Regions from separate parts of the Homo sapiens genome. Here region 2 is linked to region 1. The links come from fine-mapping of genetic effects on gene expression. A gene starts in region 1. The other region holds a variant in brackets. All regions are shown on one strand. Distances are between the middles of the regions.

Evidence for each region.
Region 2: its variant is fine-mapped to the expression of ARID4B in hippocampus (GTEx, PIP above 0.99).

The regions. Positions count from the first base shown.
Region 1 is chr1:235,323,514-235,334,101 of GRCh38, reverse strand. ARID4B (AT-rich interaction domain 4B) reads left to right here and starts at 5,923. Exons shown (of 24, transcript NM_016374.6): 1 at 5,923-6,333; 2 at 7,134-7,188. The coding sequence starts at 7,183. It overlaps GGPS1 (geranylgeranyl diphosphate synthase 1), which reads right to left and starts at 5,532. Exons shown (of 4, transcript NM_004837.4): 1 at 5,324-5,532. RefSeq lists enhancers at 4,733-4,882, 5,383-5,472, 5,713-5,772, 6,509-7,034, 7,053-7,242 and silencers at 6,253-6,302, 6,473-6,702, 6,713-6,802.
Region 2 is chr1:234,791,255-234,801,842 of GRCh38, reverse strand. LOC124904557 (a long non-coding RNA gene) reads left to right here and starts at 7,443. Exons shown (of 3, transcript XR_007066954.1): 1 at 7,443-8,111. The variant G/A (reference allele first, on the strand shown) is at 5,979.

The DNA.
Region 1 (10,588 bases):
ATATATTTATTAAACATATTCCCCTTTATACTGAAATCTGTCTTATTTCAGTATTTCCTAGAATAACACTCATGGTCTTCCTAGGGTCTCCCTGTACTGTTGAATCTCTACTTTATTTCTTTGTATCTGTTTCTATTATTACTTGTCCTCATATTAGGAATCTAACTGCTCTAGCATCTTTGGCACATTTTGGGAAGTTTATTACTTTTATCCTCTTTCTTTTGCTTCTTGGGACTATGATTTAGTCTTTAGAATCCTGAGCCCACTTCTAACCAACTTTTCTACAACAAAAAGGCTAAATGTAATATGGCATCTAATGGCAGTTTGTGGTTAGGGCTGTTCAATGAGTTGCACATCATTGGATTTTGGAATTGGAAACCACTTTAGAAAGTTATCTCAGTATGCCAGAAGATAAAGCACAAGAATATATTTGCTTGAGTGAGGGCCACTTTCTTTTGAATGAAGAAAATGAAGTTCAGTTCATGTACTTTGTGTTATTCTGATTGCTCAAAGGTCCTTTTGTTTTTTTTTTTTGAGACGGAGTTTTGCTCGTTGCCCAGGCTGGAGTGCAGTGGCGCAATCTTGGCTCACTGCAACCTCCACCTCCCGGGTTCAAGTGATTCCCCTGCCTCAGCCTCCCGAATAGCAGGGATTACAGGTTCTTGCCACCACGCCCAGCTAATTTTTTGAATTTTTAGTAGAGATGGGGTTTCACTATGTTGGCCAGGCTGGTCTCAAAACTCCTGACCTCAGGCGATCCACCCGCCTCAGCCTCCCAAAGTGTTGGAATTGCAGGTGTTAGCTACTGTGCCCGGCCTGATCCTTTTTTTCTAAGTCTGGGCCAGAGACTTAGAAATCTTCAATTTAAATATGCATCTTGTATGATTCTGATACAGCTGCTTGAGAATGTTAGGGGAACTGGAAATAGGTTGCTTACATGGTATCACACCACATCACAACTAAGGGGGTGTGGGCTACTGTTATTTATTGTAACAGTGAGGATGTGTTCCTTTTTTTTTTTTTTTTTTTTTTTTGAGACGGAGTCTCACTCTGTCGCCCAGGCTGGAGTGCAGTGGCACGATCTCGGCTCACTGCAACCTCTGCCTCCTGGGCTCAAGCAATTCTCCTGACTCAGCCTTCTGAGTAGCTGGGACTACAGGTGCCCACCACCACGCCCAGCTAATTTTTGTATTTTAGTAGAGACGGGGTTTCACCAGTGTTCCTCGATTTCTAAATCAGCCCTAGTAACTTCATAATGTTAAGTAATAAAAGTCATCTTCTATAGCCCAGTCACCTGATACTATGATCTGATCATTGATACTCTCAGGGGTAAGGCAATTCTAGTACTGTAACTTCTTGCTGGCATTAAATTTAAAAATGTAAAATATACTTAGGAGCAGAATCTGACTTTTGTGGATTTATATTATAAATTAATCCACCAAAGACAAGACTTTTGCACATATTTCAGTAAATAAACACACTGATTCATATACATGCAGCCAAGCAAATCCAAAGATCCTGAGTAAATACCAACAACGTGCCACAAAAGTAAAATTTCCAAAATCTTGCACTATGTGTTTATTACAGCACTATTCACAATAGTAAAGATATGGAATCAACCTAAGTGTCCATCAGCAGATGACTGAATAAAGAAAATGTGGTATATATACAACGAATGATTACTCAGCCATTAAAACAAAATGAAATCATGTCATTTGCAGCAAAATGGATGGATAGCCCTTACCTTAAGTGTAACAAGTCAGACATAAAAGACAAATAGTACATCTTCTCAATTATAAATGGGAGCTAGATAATGTGTATACATGGACATGGAGTGTGGAATGATAGACAATGGAGATTCCAAAGGGTGAGAAGGTGGGAAGGAGGTGGATGATGAAAGATTACTTAATGGGTACAACGTGATTACATGGGTGATGGACCCCCTAAAAGTCCTGACTTCACTACAATGCAATCTATGCATGTGATAAAACTACACTTGCACCCCATAAATTTATACAAGTAAGAATAAACAAATAAAAAACCCTCCAAACCAAAATCTAATTATTAGTGCTAGCATTCCACTTTTCCAGCACAATTACGAGTGTAGAAGTGCTGAGACTACCCAATTTGGTGACAATCAGGTATTTAATGTTCCTGTTTTGTAGCAGTCAATGAATACAAGGGTAAAATGGTTTGAACCACATTGTCTCTGTCATGCAGTTGTTTTTCTGCTGTGAAATGAGACGTATAATATGGCAACAGGAGAAAAGAATAAAACTTCTACATATGTATGCACTGTTAGGCAGTTGGTAAGCACATGATAATGGGTGGCTGAAATAATAACACACACATATAACCATCAACTGTGCAAGTGCTTTGATGCTTCCCCATACTGTAAACCATCTCATGGGTCACAGAAACCTTTTGAGAATATGATGAAAGCTATGAATCTTCTAAAAAAAAAAAAAAAAGCCCGGTGTATGTGTTAATAAGTTGCAACACAAATGTATACACTGCCACAAAGACTTACAACATACAAATTCTCAGAGATCATATAGTCCCTGAATGTTTACACGTACCTCAGATTAAGATTCCCAGCTATGGAATATCTTTACCCTTTAATGCCAAGCAGACAAATATTCGTGTTTGTGTTATAACAAGCTAAGACATAAATTCCACTAGCTTAACTCTTTATTGAAGGCAGATTACAAATGAAAATTAAAGCACAAAACTAGTGTATAGTTCAGGTTACTCTTCAGGATTGAAAGGCATATTTTTTTGTAGTCTGTTCTTATCTATATGAAACAATCATAAAAAAGATCAGCACTCCACCAAAAGAAATCATTTTAACAACATGAATTCAAAGAGAAACATCCCATATGGAAAATTTCTACATCCATCTTGACTAACAATTAATACCAAAGACGTCGCAAGGAAAAAAAGGCTCATAAAGAATCAAGTAAGCGAAATAATCAACATACCTATTAGGCAAAAACCTATTTAGTTAGGTAACCTATTATGCAAATACCTATTTAGGTAACCTATTACCTATACTATTTGATCTCTGACACGTGACCTTATTATCAGGGATTGAAGTAAGAAAAGAAGATGCAAAACAGGAAGAATAATGGCTTAGCTAAAAGATTATTATCGAACATCATTAAAAGTAGAATTAAAAAAGGATCTCATATACTTCTCTATTTAAATGTTAGTATCTATCTTTTCTCAACTACAAGTTGGGAGCAAGAATCACGTTTGTATATTTTCTCACAGCCTCCAAAACACATTTGACCGAACTTAAAAATCAATGAGATGCACTTTCAGAATTCCCTTTTGTGTCAGGACCTGTAACAGGTGTACCCTGTTGCACAGAAATCAGAGCTAATCTTTGTTTCAATTCGTAGAGCTTTGTGGTTGATGTTATTTTTCAACTTAAAACACTAATTATGCTTTAAAAAATATTTCCTTTCCTCACTTAGAGATGTTTAAGAATACTCACTTAAGTCAATTTCCTGTCCCAGAGGATATTTACATACAAGCATTTTCAGTGGTATGAAAACATAAGAACTTCAATTTTTCCAGGTATCGACAACCAACTTGCCTTGTGTCTTTCTTCTGAAACAGCGTCTCACTCTGTCGCCCAGGCTGGAGTGCAGTGGCGTGATCTCGTCTCACTGCAAACTCCGCCTCCCGGGTTCACGCCATTCTCCTGCCTCAGCCTCCCGAGTAGCTGGGACTACAGGCGCCCGCCACCTTGCCCGGCTAATTTTTTTGTATTTTTAGTAGAGACGGGCTTTCACCGTGTTAGCCAGGATGGTCTCGATCTCCTGACCTCGTGATCCGCCCGCCTCGGCCTCCCAAAGTGCTGGGATTACAAGCGTGAGCCACCACGCCCAGCCGCCTTGTGTCTTCTTAAGAGTCTAAAGGATTCTACACACCGTGGCATATACTCTCACCCTCACCCGCCTTTGTTTTTCTTTTAAATCAAAGGATTTCCCAATTTATCACAGCTGGAAATTTCAGCTATCACATACTAAAGTTAAATGTAAAGAGGCATTAGTGTGTGTTACATGAACTCTACTAGTTTCCTTTTAGAGTGAAAAAACTACAGAATACCTCAGTGAGAGTCTGAAACTTCTCACTTTCAAAACTAAAAAGCTGCCAGAAATTTGTTCAAAGAGTGAATCCATAATCATTAATACAAACGCTCCATTCTTTTCACCATGTGAACTACTACGGCAATAGCCTCCTCGTCGGGTTCCCTGCATTTGCCTCTTTAACTCTTCTTTTTTTCGCTTCCTCTACTCTTCAGCCAGGGATGACATTCCAATCGGAGCCATCTCTCCCTTTTGATTGAGATTCCTTGGAAGATATCCCATTGCTATTAGGAGAAAACCAAAACTCCTTTACAAAGCCTAAAAGGTTCGACACTCCCCCTCATCCCATCTCTCCAGGCTCAGTTCTTCATATTGGAAAAGCTCCCTTCCGCCACAGGGCTTTCTGACAAGTTAGTCTTTTTGTCTGGAATGTCTTTTCCTTTTCTCTTTCCTTAGTTAACTCCTGCTAGCCCTTCAGCTCTCAGCTCGATCCTCACTTGCTCAGAAACCCTTCCTTTCCCTCCCTAAAGAAGCCAAATTCCCTCATTCTCCTATCACCGTGGAACTCTCCTCTGGGGCACTGCCACTGCGGTAATTTCACATCGTTTTGTTCAGCATCTGTCCGTCTCACCAGGCGCAGGTCTACGAAGGCAGAGGCCACCCCAGTGGTCGGCGCTCAACACCCATGAAGAAATGAAAGCGCCTTCTAACGCGTTAGACGATGAAACCAGGGCACACAACCTTGCGTCTAAGAAGTGAACATCCCATGCAAAAGACTTTTCAAAGGGAAGGGCCTGGTTTGAGAATGGCCAGAGACATACAAATGTGAAGCGCATACTGAATCCTTCCATTCATACTCCGGGAGAAAGACGATGGATCTGAAAGAAGCCGCCTGATATAAACAGGGAATTTCAATCACTTCGAGGCCGATTTTCCACAGCGGCTGGGCAGAGAACTGCAAACGTATACAGTGCTAGCACAGAGTCCGGAGGGGAAGAAACGGTGAGGTTTCTGCTTCCTCCTCGCTCAGATGCTCCCTTCCGCCCCACTTGGCCAACCCTTCCTCTCCCTCCTCGCTTAAAGCTAGGGGATGGAAAATTCATACACAATCCGGTTCAGCATCCGGGTCCTCACTCTCCTTTCTTTCTTTCCTCTGCCCCGCCTCCCAGCCTCCCCCGCCCTTCTTCCCATCCGGGTTCCCCCCAGCCGCCGCCACTGCCGCTCACAGTTCAACGATGATATCACGACTTTCACGCCGCCGGTCCGGGAGTAACTGTACCCCGCATCAACTTCCTATTTTATAATGTGGACTTAGGCTCTTCCCGATGCCTACATGAATCCTTCCCACTATTTCACCACAGAACTCTCCGCCCTCCTCAGCCGCCAGCGACACCGCATTAGTTGGTGCAAGAAAATGCGCCATCCCGGTCACACTGCGCAGGCGTCGTTGCCGCCTCCCTACTGCTTTGTTGCCCCGCCCCTTTCACCTCCCCCCCGCCCCCGCACCGGTCCACGCAGGCGCAGGGCATTGCGGGCCTTGCAGTTCTCGCGGACGAGGATTTGCGCGTTGGCCCCAGAGTATGGACTTTATTTCCCAGAAAGCCTTGAGGCGTAACTTTCTGTTTCCATAGAACTGGTGGGAAAATGGCGTCGTTGTTTGTATCCAGGGACCAATAGGAACAGTGTATAGGCGGGTTCTAAAGAACTTTAACCAATCCAAGGTCGTCTAAGAGGCCATCCGGGAAAGAGGTAGGGGAGGGGGGGAAAAAAAATCTAGGGGAGGGGAGAAAGGGGGGGAACCTAGAGTCGGTGGGGGGGAAGCGATGTTTGCCCGTCAGTCGAGTCCGGAGTGAGGAGCTCGGTCGCCGAAGCGGAGGGAGACTCTTGAGCTTCATCTTGCCGCCGCCACGGCCACCGCCTGGACCTTTGCCCGGAGGGAGCTGCAGAGGGTCCATCGCCGCCGTCCTCTGGAGGGCAGCGCGATTGGGGGCCCGGACCTCCAGTCCGGGGGGGATTTTTCGTCGTCCCCCTCCCCCCAACCAGGGAGCCCGAGCGGCCGCCAAACAAAGGTACCAGTCGCCGCCGCGGGAGGAGGAGGAGCCGGAGCCTCTGCCTCAGCAGCCGCTGGACCCGCCGCCCTTCTTCCCCATCTCTCCCCCGGGCCTGCTGGTTTTGGGGGGGAGAAGGAGAGAGGGGACTCTGGACGTGCCAGGGTCAGATCTCGCCTCCGAGGAAGGTAGGGATATTTTCTGGGGCTTTCGTGGTCTCCTAAGGGGGTTCTTTTGGGAGTCGCTGGGCCCGGCCAAGGAGCAGAGGAAGATCGCGGTGGTGGTCCCTGCGGCGCCCGAATTCGGGGCCTCGGCCTCCCGGGAACCCCCACCCCCCGCAGCCGCTGTGTCCGAGCCGCCCCCTGGCTGGGCGGCCGCACACTCAGCGGTTTAGCGGCCGCGGTCGGGGGCCCGGGCAGGGTGGGGGCCGTTCCGCCTCCGGGGCCCTCGGCCCTCACGTTGTCCCCGCGGCGGGGCCAGATGTTGATCTCGCTCCCACTTGTCGGGTCTGAGCCCGGAACGGGACGTGGGCAGGGGCTCTGTGGCGGGCCGGTCCTGCCCGCGGCCCACAGGCCCTCCTGGCCCCTCGGTGGCCCCCGGCCGGCCTCTCGCTCGGACGCGGCGCGTGGGGGCGCGGATTCGCTCGGCCGGGCGCCGAGGCCCTAGGGGAGAGCGGCCGGCCCTGCGCCGGACGCCGGGCTTGTTGTGAGTTTCTTCTCTGACAGAAATGGCGTCATTGTCGTAGACGGGAAACTCCGTCGGGTCTCGACAATGGGGACGGGAAGCTGCCGAGCTGTGTAGGTGGTTGGGTTTGCGGGGATGGCGGGGCCGGAGGGAGCCCCGAGTCGGCGTGTGATGGTTCGGGGGCTGGCGCCTGGTTGCGGCTCTTTCTTCGGGGTTCGGACGTCGCTCGCTTCTTTCCCTCCGCCTCCGCCAGTGCAGAGGGGCTCCTGTGGTGTTGACTGGGTGTCTTTTGTTTCCCCTCCAGGTGCAGCTGAACCTGGTGTTTTAGAGGATACCTTGGTCCCAGAGTCATCATGAAGGTAAGATTGCCTGCGGAAAACGAATCTCTGGGGTTATCGAATTCAGGAAGTAGGAGGTTTCGACGAGGTCGTCGTGTGGGGCTTCCGAGTTTTGCAGAGGAAGGTGTGTTTGGTGACTTGGTGACCGAGCCCTTCCCCAGAGAGACCGGGGTCAGCTGGCGGGCTTTGCTGTGGAGTTGGAGGCAGTTATAGGATGTCTCAACTGAAGATGATTCTCCCATATTGAACATCTCTTTTTGTAGGGAATGAGAGGAATAACGGCATGAATTAAAGTGTTTTAAAAGGTAAAATAAAAAGCAAGTCAGGTAATCTGACCCTAGAAACTGAACTGTATTGTGGTTCTATCAGTTACACTGATGAAAGAGAATCTTATTTATTGTGTGAACAGTACTGTAAAATTTTAGCAGAAAACTCTTTGACTCGTCACAAAAATAATTTAATTGAAAGATTTAAAAAGAGAATTTTTGTGATTTTTTACACAATTCAGAGATACCAGTTGTTTCTTGTATTTCCAGTGACTTGGGGTTATATGGTTTATTTTTCTTTATTGATCTGGTTGGTCTGTAAATAAGTCAGAGGCTCTGTTGCATTATGATGTGTGGAAAACTGATGGCCAGGTTCCTCTTAGATGTCAATATGTTAACTGAGTGGAGAATAGGGTCAAAAAATTTGCTTAATTGTTGGAAGAAATGATAACGATAAAAATACAGGTATTTTTGTTACTTGAGAGAATATGTATATGAATGCTGTCTTTTTTTTTTTTAAACACATGCTAGAATAAAACCTTAGATTTTTGAAAAGTCTGGATTCAACTGGTGGAACTTAGACACTAGCTTGTATTTTTTCATCCATTACAAATTCAGAAGTGCTTGAAAAGGGTAGAGTGTTCACAAGTGTAGAAATGCAACAGATAGCATGTTAGAATATCAACGTTGTCTACTTTTGACAGTTCCTTTGAACTATTTAAAAAAATATTTCACTTGTCCTCAGAATCAAGACTGCTTTGACAATTTTGCATCCAAATTAAAATTTGTAATACTTGTGGTTGTAGAAGGTAAAAGCTGTGGCTACTTAAATCTTGGTCTACTATACAGAGTAATTAAGTTTAGTCTAATTTTTTTAAGGTTTTCTCTTTGAGTTTGGGATGCTGTAAACTACCTGAAACAGTTTATTCCTATCTCATTTCATGAAGCATAGACATGTTTCAGGAATGAATCCCTTTTGTTAGTCACAAATCCTAGCTATAACTCTCATCACCTGTGTAAAACAGTGGTGAAAGTGCATTTATTAGGTAACTCGTATATGTACCTTGATGTTGGGTGAGAATTTCTTAAGAAAAGTTTTGGTTTGAGTAAGAAATAATAAGTTCAGAAGCCGAATAAATAAAAGGTTTAGTTTGGAGTAAATGTAATGTGTCACATTTCCCAGTGTTGTAGTGCTTGTCACTTCTTAGGTGCTCTATAAATGTTTGGTTAAAAGAAATGTAGTTAAGTTGAAAGTCTGAGATTAAAATGTTTTTTTTCTTCCTTTCGTTTCCTTTTTTTTTTTAAGTAGTCTGTTTAAAAAAATGAAAGTATGTTGGAAACTTTAGCCTTAAAAGTTTCTTGGTAATACTAGCCAAATGCAAATTTTTTGGTATCTTTTTAGAAATACTAATTTTAAGTGCTCAGCATTACATTCTACTGCATTTTTTAAAAAGGTGCTTTTAACGTTAAAAGGAAAAAGTTACTAAAATAAATTTCTAACTTCATACAAGTACTTCCTGTTATTATAAGTATAGCAAATCTCAGAGAATTTGCTAGTAATTATTAGTACTAAAAACTTAGCTTATTTCTTACAACTTTATTTCTTATGTGATAAAAGATGAGAAGCTTCTTGTAATTTGTATTTTGCTTTAGCAAAAATTGCAATTCAGAATCTATTTAATGTTGAGTGTATTAGGCCTAAATTTTGTTTCTTTTTCTGTGTGTTCCCAATTTCTTTCGTTCTTTTTTATTTTTCTTTTTGATATAGAGTCTCACTATTTCACCCTGGCTGGCACGATCTGTAACTGCTGCCTCCTGGGCTCAAATAATCCTCCCACCTCAGCCTCCTGAGTAGCTGGGACTACAGGCACACCTGGCTAATTTTTGTAGTTTTTGTAGAGATGAGGTTTTGCCGTGTTGCCCAGGCTGGTGTCGAACTTCTGGGCTCAGGTGACTCTCCCGCCTTAGCCTCCCAAAGTGCTGGGATTACAGGCGAGAGTCACCGTGCCTGGTGTAATTTCTGTATTACGATGATCATTGAGCTACAGAAGGTTTTATGCCATTTATTGGATCTTACCAAACATATTTGTACTTGGGAGCAAGCTTTTAAGTTTGAATTGTCTGTTGTATTAACGACAACAAATCTTTAAATTTTATTAAGTGACAGTTTATTGAGGTGATTGAAAGTTAGATTATGTAGTAATACTTTTTAGGTGTTGTTTTAAAGTTGAAGTGTTGTATGTTTTAGCAGTTTTCCCATGTACTACCTTTAAGAATTTATGTAAACAAATACATTCCCATTACTGTCTAATATATGCTATGTTACTTTTTTCACAGTATGTTTTTGAGGAATATGATTCGTAATACATAAGGAATTTGTGCTGTAACATAGATCGTGATGTTGGTGTTATGTTGAATTTATTTTTCATGCTCTTGATAGACTTTTAAAAATCAGTGGTGCCGGCTGGGCATGGTGGCTCACGCCTGTAATCACAGCACTTTGGGAGGCCGAGGTAGGAGGATCACCTGAGGTCAAGGGAGTTTGAGACCAGCCTGGCCAGCGTAGTAAAACCCTGTCTCTTCTAAAAATACAAAATTAGCTGGGCATGGTGGCACACACCTGTAATCCCAGCTATTCGGAAGGCTGAGGCAGGAGAACTGCTTGAACCCAGGAGGCGGAGGTTGCAGTGAGCTGAGGTTGCGCCACTGAACTCCAGCCTCGGCGAAAAAAGTGAAACTCTCTCTCTCAAAAAAAAAAAAACTAAATAAAATAAAATAAAAATCAGCAGTACCACATTATAAGGAGGTGGTAGATTATTAAAGTTTGTAAATAATTCCAAGACTTATTTTTATTATGTCAGGTTGATTTTTACTTTTTTTTTTTAAGACGGACTTTTGCTCTTGTTGCCCAGGCCGGAGTGCAGTGGTGCGATCTCGGCTCACTGCAACCTCTGCCTCCCAGGTTCAAGCAGTTCTCCTGCCTCAGCCTCCTGAGTAACTGGAATTATAGGCATGCACCATCATGCCGGGCTAATTTTGTGCTTTTAGTAGAGACAAGGTTTCTCCATATTGGTCAGGCTGGTCTCGAACTCCTGACCTCAGGTGATCTGCCCGCCTCGGCCTCCCAAAGTGCTGGGATTACAGGCGTGAGCCAC
Region 2 (10,588 bases), 530 kb after region 1:
CTTGCAGGCTGGTGTGGTCATGGGACTAATTTCTGCAAGAAGAGTTTGAGCTTCAGTGTGGTGTGACTTCTGGACCTTTGAAAAGAGGGGTTTATTCCTTCCATTCTCCCACCTTTCTCTTCCTTCCTCCTTGTTGGAGTGTGGCTATCTTGGTGATGGTGAACCATCTTGGACCACATGGATGAGGGCCACACACTCAGGATGCTGGAGCAACAAGGTGGAAGGTACCTGGGTCTCGACTGCCCACCCTTGTGAAAGGTAAATGCAGTTCCATCTTATCTGAACCCTAGTATTTTGAGGTTCTGTTAGAATTGCTGCACCTGTATTCTAACTAATGCCTTCTTTAGGCTCTTTGACCCACTTGCCAGATTGCAGGTTGCAGGAAGACAGAACATGGTTTTGCTCACCATTAGGTCATCAGGGCTGGCACAGATTGCTCAACACATAATAAATACTTGTTGGAAGTGTTAATGAGTTATGGTTTTACTCTGGTATCTGGACTTCTGCTTTCCAAAGGATGAGTGGCCCTTGACGCATTGTTCCCTTGGGCAACTGCAGCCTCTGTCATGGGCCAAGTATGGAATGTCCCTGGGAAATAAAATCTCAGAGGAAGAGAGCTCCTGCCCAGCCGAAATTCTCCCTGGAATTGTGAGCCTCCAATTAGGCTAGAAGATACAGTCTTCCCATCTGTTGTAGAAACAGAAAGTTATTTAGAGTATAAAACAATCTCCCGGCTTCATGTGTGAAGCCTATTTGAGAGTCAGAGGGTTCCAGCAGAGGGAGGAGGATCATCAGCTACACCTGGAGCTCTGGGGATGAAAGAACCCATGAGGGCCTCATAGATTATAGGGCTCTGACTCCTCCAGGGAAAGATGATCCAGTGTTCTGGCCTATCTTGGCCTGTGGTTCTTTGTGATCCATGGAGTGAGAGTGTCCACAATCGCCTGCTGTGTGGTATTTCCCTGACTTGAGCCTTTGCTCATAACCAGCATAGCCCACAAACACCAGCCGTATCCCTCAATTCCTGACTTCTGCTTTCCCGTCTTTACAGAAGAACCCCAGCTGTGCTAATGGTCCTGTAACCTCTCAGCTCAGGGCCATGAGACCTTCTCTCTGCATGAATCTCGCCTCCTCTGCACCCCACACTTCCACACCACTTCCTCATAAAACGTGTTATCTGACTACACAACCCTGGAAATGATGTTCCTCCTGATGTGTTCCCAAGCATTCTTGCTATTCTGCTTCCTCTAGAAGCCAGGGAACTTTAGCTGACCAGGTCTGTGTCTTGGGCACCTGCCTTGGTGAGCGACCTCTGAGAATTTCTCACTAAACATTTGTTGAATGAACTAGGAGATATATAAGGGAATGCCTCTTCTGCCTACCATGAGCATGGCCTTAAGTGTTATCTTTGTTGCTTGGCCAAGTCAGGGCCTTGAGTCCCAAGTGAGGTGCCCAGCCCTTATTCCTGATCAATAAATACTTTTAGACTCCTGATTATTCTCTTGCTTGCTTGCTTGCTAATCTCTAATAGATTAGATCTATTCCCTAATCTAATTCTCTGATCTTCCTCCTGAAACTTGGCTCCATATTGAGTTCCTTGCCCTATATCCGTACTTGCACGGCCGCTATTTGCCACCCAGAGTCCCCGTGCTGGCAAATTCAACACCCGGAGCATTATCATTTTGGTGCAATTCCTGAGCACAGCTTGCTGACTCTTCGGTACTTATTGTTTCTATCTGGAATACAAGAGGGAGTATATTATGAGGATGATGGTAAACCCAGATCATGGTGCTCAGAGCAGATCTGAAACTCTGGCAGCGTAACACCTCTCTCCAGCATGGACAGATAAGGGTGATTATTATTTAGTTAGACTTTTCATTTTGAGAGAAATCGTAGGTTCACATGCAAATGTAAGAAATGATGTGGAGATCTATGTACCTTTTATACAGTTTCTCCCAAAGGTAATACCTTCAAAACTATTGTATGATTTCACAAACAGGACACTGACATTGATAGAGTCCAGATTCAGAACATGTCCGTCATCACCAAGGTCCCTCACGTTGCCCTTTTGTGGCCGCACCTGCGTCCTCTTACTCTCCCCATCTCTGCCCCATCTTTAACTCCTGACAACTACTAAACTGTTCTTTGTATAACTACTAAACTGTTCTTTGTATAACTACTAAACTGTTCTTTGTATAACTAAAGTTATAATTTTGTCATGTCAAGAATTTCATATGAATGGAATTACACAGCATGCAACCTTGACTTTTCTTACTCAGCACAACCGTCTGGAGGTTCACCCAGGTTGTGGCATGTGTCAATAGTTTTCTCTTTTGTTGCTGAGTAGTATTGCATGATAGAGATGTACTGCAGTTTGTTTAACCACTCACCTTCCACCTGAAGGGCAGCTGGTTTTTTCCACTTTGGGGGGATTACAAACAAAGCTGCTGCAGACATTCACATGTGGGTTTTTGTGTGAACCTAAGTTTTTTTTTTTTTTTTTTTTTCCTGGGATGAATGCTCAGGAGTGCATGCCAGGTTGCACAGGCCTTGCATGTTTAGTTTTATAAGAAACTGTCAGACTGTTTTCTAGAGTGATTGCACCATTTTACATTCTCACCAACAATGTATGAGGGATCCAGTTTCTCCATATCCTTGCCAGCATTTGTGGTTGTCACTCTTTTAGCCATTCAATAGTCATGTAATGATATCTCATTGTGGTTGTAATTTGTATTTTCCTAATGGCTAATGATTTTAAATTACCTCTTCATATGCTTATTTGCCACCTGTATATTTTCCTCTTCAGTTAAATATCTCTTCATGTCTTTTCTCATTTTTTCAAATTTAAAAATTCTTATTTATTTATTTTTTATTTTTTTTACTGTGGAGTTTTGAGAGTTCTTTCTATATTCTACATACTAGTCCTTTGTCAGATAGGCAGTTTGCAAATATTTTCTCCCAGTCTGTAGCTTGACTTTTCATCCTCTTAACAGGGTCTTTCATAGAGCAAATGTTTAACTTTGATGAAGTCTAATTTAACCATTTTTCCTCTTATGGCTCATGCTTTTGGCATCAAGTCTAAGAATTCCTTGCCTGGCCCTAGCTTTCAAATATTTTCTCTTTTTTTCTCTATAAGTTTTATCGTTTTATGTTTTACATATAAATCCATGATCAATTTGGAGTTAATTTCTGCATGAAGCGTGAGACTAGATTGAGGTTTATTTATTTATTTTTTGCTTATGAATATCGATTGCTTCCATACCATTTGTTGAAAAGGGTATCTTTCCTCCATTGAATTGCCTTTGTACCCTTATCTAAAGTCAGTTGGAAATTTTGCGTGGGCCTATTTCTATTAACTTCCACTGGTCTGTGTATCTATCCCTTCACTAATAGCATGTAGCCTTGATCACTGTAGCTATACAGTAAATCTTGACATTAGGTAGACTAATCTATCCCATTTCATTTTTCTTTTTCAAAATTGTTTTAGCTATTCTAGTTTCTCTGCCATTTTATATACATTTAGGATAATCTTGTCTAGATCTATGCAATAATATTGCTGGGATTTTGTTTGCAGTTATATTGACCCATATATCAAGATGGGGAGAATTGACATCTTTACTGTTGAGTCTTCTGATTCATGAATTTGTAATGCTTCTTCATGTATTTTAGCTCTTATTTGGTTTCTTTTGTAGGAATTTTAAGCACACAAGTACTGCACATATTTTGTTAGATTTACACCTACGTATTTCATTTCTCTTGAGTGACTGCAAATGGCATTGCATTTGTAATTTTGGTGTCCACTTGTTCATTGCAGTATACAGAAATAGAATTGAGTTCATGTGTTTATCTCTTATTCTGTAACATTGCTGAACTCATTAGTTCTAGGGTTTTTTTTTTTGGTTTGTTTTATAGATTCTTTGGGATTGTCTATGTTCACAATCATAGGGATGGTTTTATTTCTTCCTTTCCAAACTATCTGCTTTTATTTTATTTTCTTATTTTATTGCACTGGCAGAACTTCCAGTAGGAAGTTGAATAGGAGTGGTAGAGTGGTCATTCTTGCCTCTCCTTGATCTTACGTGGAAAGCATTCAGCCTTTCATCATCAAGTATAATGTTAGCTATAGGGTTTTATAGATGCTTTTTAGTAAGTTGAGGAAGTCCCCCTCTATTCCTATTTTTCTGAGAGGTTTTCTAATGAATGGGTGTTGAATTTTGTCAAATGGGGCAAGAGGGTGGTAATTCTTCATTATTCCTTACTGTAATTAGTCTGTCAATGTTAATGAGCATGCTATTATTAAGCACCTATTGGATGTTCAGTGTTGTGCTAGGCTCTGTGAGACATATAGGAACCTAAAAATTTGAGCCTTGCCCTCAAGCACTAAGGAAACACACTTTCTAAACCACAATTTAGCATATACCATAAGTGCTGCAGAAGGCCCCAGGCAGCGGAGGCCAGTGTTGCCCTGGCTAGAAGGTGTCACTTAGGTTGGCCTTTGGGCTGGAGTAGAACCTAGATACACAAGAGAGGGGAGTGAATTAGAGAAAATTCAACGGCCTAAAATTCTATTTTCTAACAAGGACAATGGTAAGTTGATAATTAGTAGGATAGAGATAGCTTTTGATTAATGAAGTTGGATTATCTCTATTCTGTGGATTATCCCTGACAAATGCTTAATCCTGAACTTCCTCCCTTTTTGAGCATTTGGGCTCTCTTTTCTGCCATCCGTCAACATGTTCAGGGGAATGCAAACTAATATTACTATTAGCTAAAGAAAAACATAATTAAGGAGGGCAATCTGCTGTCCCTAAATTGTATCATCTTTTCCAAACTAAATATGAGTGATATTGGTACTATCTTTTGTTTGGAGAGATCCACACCACTTCTCTCCCTCTTAAGGCTCAAGAAGAATTGACTGTGACCATGATATACACAATACATTTATTAAGCTGTCTCTCTAACAAGTTAGCTAAACACTTGGGAAGTAAGAGTAATGCCTTAGAGAATTTGGAACCCATGACATCTGATTCATTGGTATTGTCCATATTTGTACATGTTTACTCTAATATAAAGTAATAATATAATAGTGCTGTCATTTGCAAAATTAAAAATCCTGGCACATTACTCATGGGTCATGCTTTGGGTTGTCATTCTAACGGGTTTGATGGATTTGTATAGATCTGGTCCTCTATCTCACTTTGTCCTGCTGGTGACCAGTGGCTCCTCTTGGAGGCAGATGGCCAGGGTTAAGGGTGGAATCTGAGGCCGTGAGGGAGAGTGAAATTAACTGCTCCCTTCACAAGGGAATTGAACCCCTGACCTTCACCTCATTAGCACAGCACTCCAATGCAGCAATTCCTAACCTCAATTTTATATCACCCCAGGGTGTCTCCACTTATCTCAAGCGGGAGCTGCAGAATTCCTCCAACAAAATTAATTTTAATTCACCTTAATTTAAACATTAAATATGGACTATGAGGCAGCAACTTGCAGGAGTGGGGAAGAATGGCTGTTGTTAATAAATCCCACCACCACAATGCACTGTTATCCAAACACCCCAAAACACCCTCTCGAACCCACTGAGCCAAACAGTGTGGGGAGGAAGAAGTCTATAAGTAAGCAGCAGGCATGAAAGGCTTTTAAATTGCGGGGGAAGCAACACCCAACCCTACCAAACATCTGCATTTCATAGAGACTGTTTCATGTGGTCAGCTGGGGTGCACTCTGACATTCCCTGGGCCAGATGGACATATTTCAGCTCCCGTCCAGGCAGCCCATCCCTTTTTCCTCCTAGGGACTGTGATGCTTTGCATAGTCCCAGGAATTTGCTGCAGGAACATTTTGTGATTTACTAAGAAAATAAATTGGTCTTTGTTGCTGGGGCTTTCTCCTGGGTCAATACAAAAGATTCATCACCTCCATGCCGGCCCACGGAGAGGTTGGCTCAAAGGATTCTCTGGCCACTGGCTTATTCTGGA[G/A]ACAAGCAGAGTCCCAGCAGAACCTTTGCAGGGTAGGCCAGCAGCCTGAGTGTAAGGCAGGGGAAGTAACCGTAGGAATCAGTTATTGATGAACATCCTTAAAACTCTGATTGTTTGTTTGTTTGTTTGTTTGTTTTGAGATGAGTCTCACTCTGTCGCCCAGGCTGGAGTGCAGTGACGCGATCTCGGCTCACTGCAAGCTCCTCCTTCCAGGTTCACACCATTCTGCCACCTCAGCCTCCCGAGTAGCTGGGACTACAGGCGCCCGCCACCATGGCCAGCTAATTCTTTTTTGTGTTTTTAGTAGAGACTGGGTTTCACCGTGTTAGCCAGGATGGTCTTGATCTCCTGACCTCATGATCCACCGGCCTTGGCCTCCCAAAGTGCTGGGATTACAGGCGTGGGCCACCGCGCCCGGCCGAACATCCTTAAAACTCTTCATGGTCGTTTACTGATAACAACATCCACATGCATTTTTTAAAGGAGAATAAGCATAGTTCCTTACCCTGGCAGTGCACTTTATATAATTTGTCAAAGAGTTTCACATGCATTGTATCTCAATTGTTCTCTACCTACCCAGAATTACCAACTTCATTTTATTGAAGAGCAAATAGACTTGGAAAAGTTAAATGCCTTGCCCAAGGTCGCATAGCTAGTAAATCATGGTTGTAGCACCAGATCCCATGTCTTCTCATATACTGCACCCTTTTCTCTATACTAATCTTATCTTGGTTTATTATCAACATCCATTTGCTTTTGGCAGGGAAGGGTCCAGAATCTTCATTTTACAGAACAACGAATTGAGGTAAGTAAGCGTTTTGGGTCCTGCCTCTTTTTCTGCTGGCACCATGTGCCTTTCTTGCTGAAGGGCAAGGAGTTCTTTTGCAGGCACACTCATTTCTGCTCTCAGAGGCCAGGCTCTCAACCATCATCATCAGTGCCATCCTGCTCATTGGGCCCCACCCTGCCCTCTGTGTCCAGTGGGGGCTTGCATCTGTGATTTCTGGGCAGTGAGGGGGTCATACGTGAACAGTTCCTTCGCATCCTCTTAAAATTGCTCTTTCAGCTCCATAAGTTTCAACTAGTCAAAACACTCTCCTTCACACTTCTTCAAAGATGAGCATTTGTTCTACATATTTTTTTGTAGTCATATTCTGCGAGTGCACACTTTCCCTCTTGGGTCCTTAGACACACCCTTTTCCAGGCATGATTCACTTCCTCAAGCTCCATTCTGGATACATACATCTGGTGCCACCTGGAAGAGGGCTTATCAGGTCCTCCCACCTGGAATACAGCTTAACCAGAGTTGATTTCTAAGGCATGCAACCAAGAAACCAGACTGATATAAATGGGATATTATTGATTTTATCTGCCTAACCGAGTCTATAAATTTCTGAAAGCCATGGAAGGAACTCTATTTTGTTGCATTCCTCATAATATCTAGAACGGTGCTTTGCATATACTGAGTGCTCAAGGCATATTTGCAGATGGTGACGAGGATGATTTGATGTCGTTTTAAAGGCCGGACATCCAAGAGGAGGTCTGTTCTCTACATGTGCATGCACGTACACTTACACACACTCTCTGACTTGTAAGATGCCCTTTGCAAGAGTCCATTTGGGAAATGCAGTGGGCCCACTGGAAGAAATTCAAGGCCATGGGCCAGCTACACCACGGAAGCCCTACACCCAGCCAAACGTGCTCACTGGCAAGTCAAACCCAAAAGCTGTCATCAAATTCTGCTTCCTGGCAGCCCTGATCCAACAATACTCTGAAAGACAAAAGAAGCAGAAACTCAAGTGAAGATCACCAACGTGTCTTTTTGGGCAACTAGCAGATTGAGCAGAGGGTCAGCACAGACACCAGCAGAGAAGAACATTCTCCTGGCAGGACTCTGCCTCCAAATTCGGCACCACTTCACAGGATCTCAGCCTCACACCTTATGGGATTTATTTTTTTAAAAAAGATCCAACATTTGTTCCTAATTATTCTTAGTAAAACTGCCTTTCTTGATGTGGCACCCATTACCTCATTCATTCAGTCACTCATTCATTCATTCAATGAAACCCCTGTCATCCACGCTCTGGGCTCTTTCTACAGCCCCACGACATGATCAAGAACTCTGGAAAACAGGTAAGCCATTATCATCAGTGTATATGAAATTATCATCAGTGTATACGAAATATGAAGAAACCCAATTAGATGGAGATATCTCCTACCACACATTGAAATCAGAACTCAGACAAGACTCAGATGTTCTAACTCCAAATTCTGAGCAGTGGCCCCTGGATAAAGGATTATGGAGAAATACTGACCAGAAAAAATACTCTTAAATGGCATATTGTGGTGTTTTAAGGCAAGGTTATTGGTAGTGCTTGTAACTCTCAAAATACTGTTTTGGAAGTTTGTAGTGATTTTGCAGAACGGCTTTGAGTTACCTCTGGGTGTTATCAATCATTGGATAGTTTTCAAAAGAAATCCACCTTAATTTGAGTTAAATAATATGTCATTTAGCCAGATTTCCTCCTGCCCCCAATCCCCATAGGAGTGAGAAGCCATGGCTTGGGGCATTATCTCAGCATCATGGGAATTGCAGAGAGGGTACCACAGCTTTAGAGTTTGAGGTGTTGAGCCTGAACAAAAGGAAAGGGTAAGAAACTTGGGGTGGATAGAACGTGGAACTACTATGAAGAGCTTATTGCATAGAAAAAGAGAAATTTGAGTTAAAAAAAAAAAAATGGAAGAAAGTAAAGGGAGCCCAAATGGGAACAGTTACCAGAGGAGATTCCCTGGAATTTGAAGGAACCAGGTTGAAGGATGGTTTCCCAATTTGAATAATTATAAGAATCACCTGGTACTCTTTTTAAAACTATAAGTTCCTAGAGCCCCAGTCTTAGACATTGCATTTAGCGTGTCTGGGTTGAGGCCCAGAAATCTGTATTTTTAACAGAAACCCAGGTGATTTTTATAATCAGGAAAGATTTGGGCAATGTCTGCATTTGAAGATGCTGTCTCTCAAAATGAAGAAATACCTGGACAAAGCCAAGTCCAAGACAGGGGCTCTAAGTCAAAAAGGCAAGAGCAAAAACAACATGAGCCTTTACAAAATGTGAATTGGCAAAAAAGCAGCTGTAGCTCATATTTAATAACCTCCCATGGCTTCCAGAGAAGCAGCTGGGTCTGCAGAGTCCTGTTTGTGCACAGGATGAATGGAGTCTGTGTGCCACTCGGGATGCCCCCACAATACCCACATTATCACTGAGGTGCTCCAGCGAGGCATTCATTATGCACTCCCCTGCCACCCAAAGCCTCAGGTCAGGTTTGCCTTGGACACTCTCCCTTCTCCCTTCTCTGAGGCTGAGGGGCTGCAGGGGCGGGTGCCTGAACTCCCTCCCTCTCTCAGGGATGCCTCAGCTCTATGGGACTTCCTCTGGATCACATGATTGCATTTTCCTGCCTTGGGGCACCCTAAAGGCCTGCCTCTGGGAAGCAGGGTCTAGAGGCATGAGCTTGTCTGGACAACAGAAGCTCAATCTCAGCATCCTAAAGGCCTGCCTCTGGGAAGGGGGGGGTCACAGAGGCATGAACTTGTCTGGACAACAGAAGCTCAATCTCCATCTCCAAGCAGTTCGATCCCCCAACACTCTTGGCATTAGGAGGGGAGCCTCTGCAAGTGTGAGGACCGGGGGCCTCTAAACACGGTTTTTTTCTTTTTCTTTTTTTCTTGAGATGGAGTCTTGCTCTGTTGTCCAAGCTGGAGTGCAGTGGTACCATCTCCACTCACTGCAACCTCTGCCTCCTGGGTTCAAGAGATTTCTGGCTAATTTTTGTATTTTTAGTAGAGACGGGGTTTCACCATGTTGGCCAGGCTGGTCTCAAACTCCTGACCTCAAGTGATCTGCCCACCTCGGTCTCCCAAAGTGCTAGTATTAAAGGCGTGAGCCACCACACCAAGCCCTAAACACAGCCTGAGGCTGGTATCCCAGGAGGCCTTGAAAAATCTCAGGTTTGCTGCTGACAGGTGTGCCAGGAAGAGACCTGGCTGCTGTCTGCAAGTGGCCAAACCCTGATAATCCCGGAAATAAACAATAAAATAAACTCCTCAATGGTGATTATAAAGTACTATTGTTTATCAGCCAGGACCTGTGCTAAGCTTTTCACCTACATTATTTCATTTATATTTCAGAGCAATCCTTTGAAGCAGTCATGTTTATATCAGTTTTATGGATGAGGTCAGAGACTTCTGCTGGTTAAGTACCTTGCCACTATCACACAGCTAGCTAGTAAATAAACTTTAAAAAATTGAAGTATTATGTACATAAAGACAGGCATAGTGTACAACTAAGTGGGTTATCATAAAAGTGAACATACCTGTGTAACCATCCACCCAAATCAAGAGCTAGACTATTACCAGCCTCAGAAAAATCCCAGACCCTCTCCAATAACCTCCTCTTCCCCAATGGTGACCATTTTTGTCACCGAGTATTAGATGGCTAGTTTGTGAATTTTATAAAAACAGAATTCTACATTATATGTTCTTTTTGTCTGACTTTTTTCTCCACTCAGTATGACATCTGTAATGTTGATCTAATGTCATTCATGTACAAGTA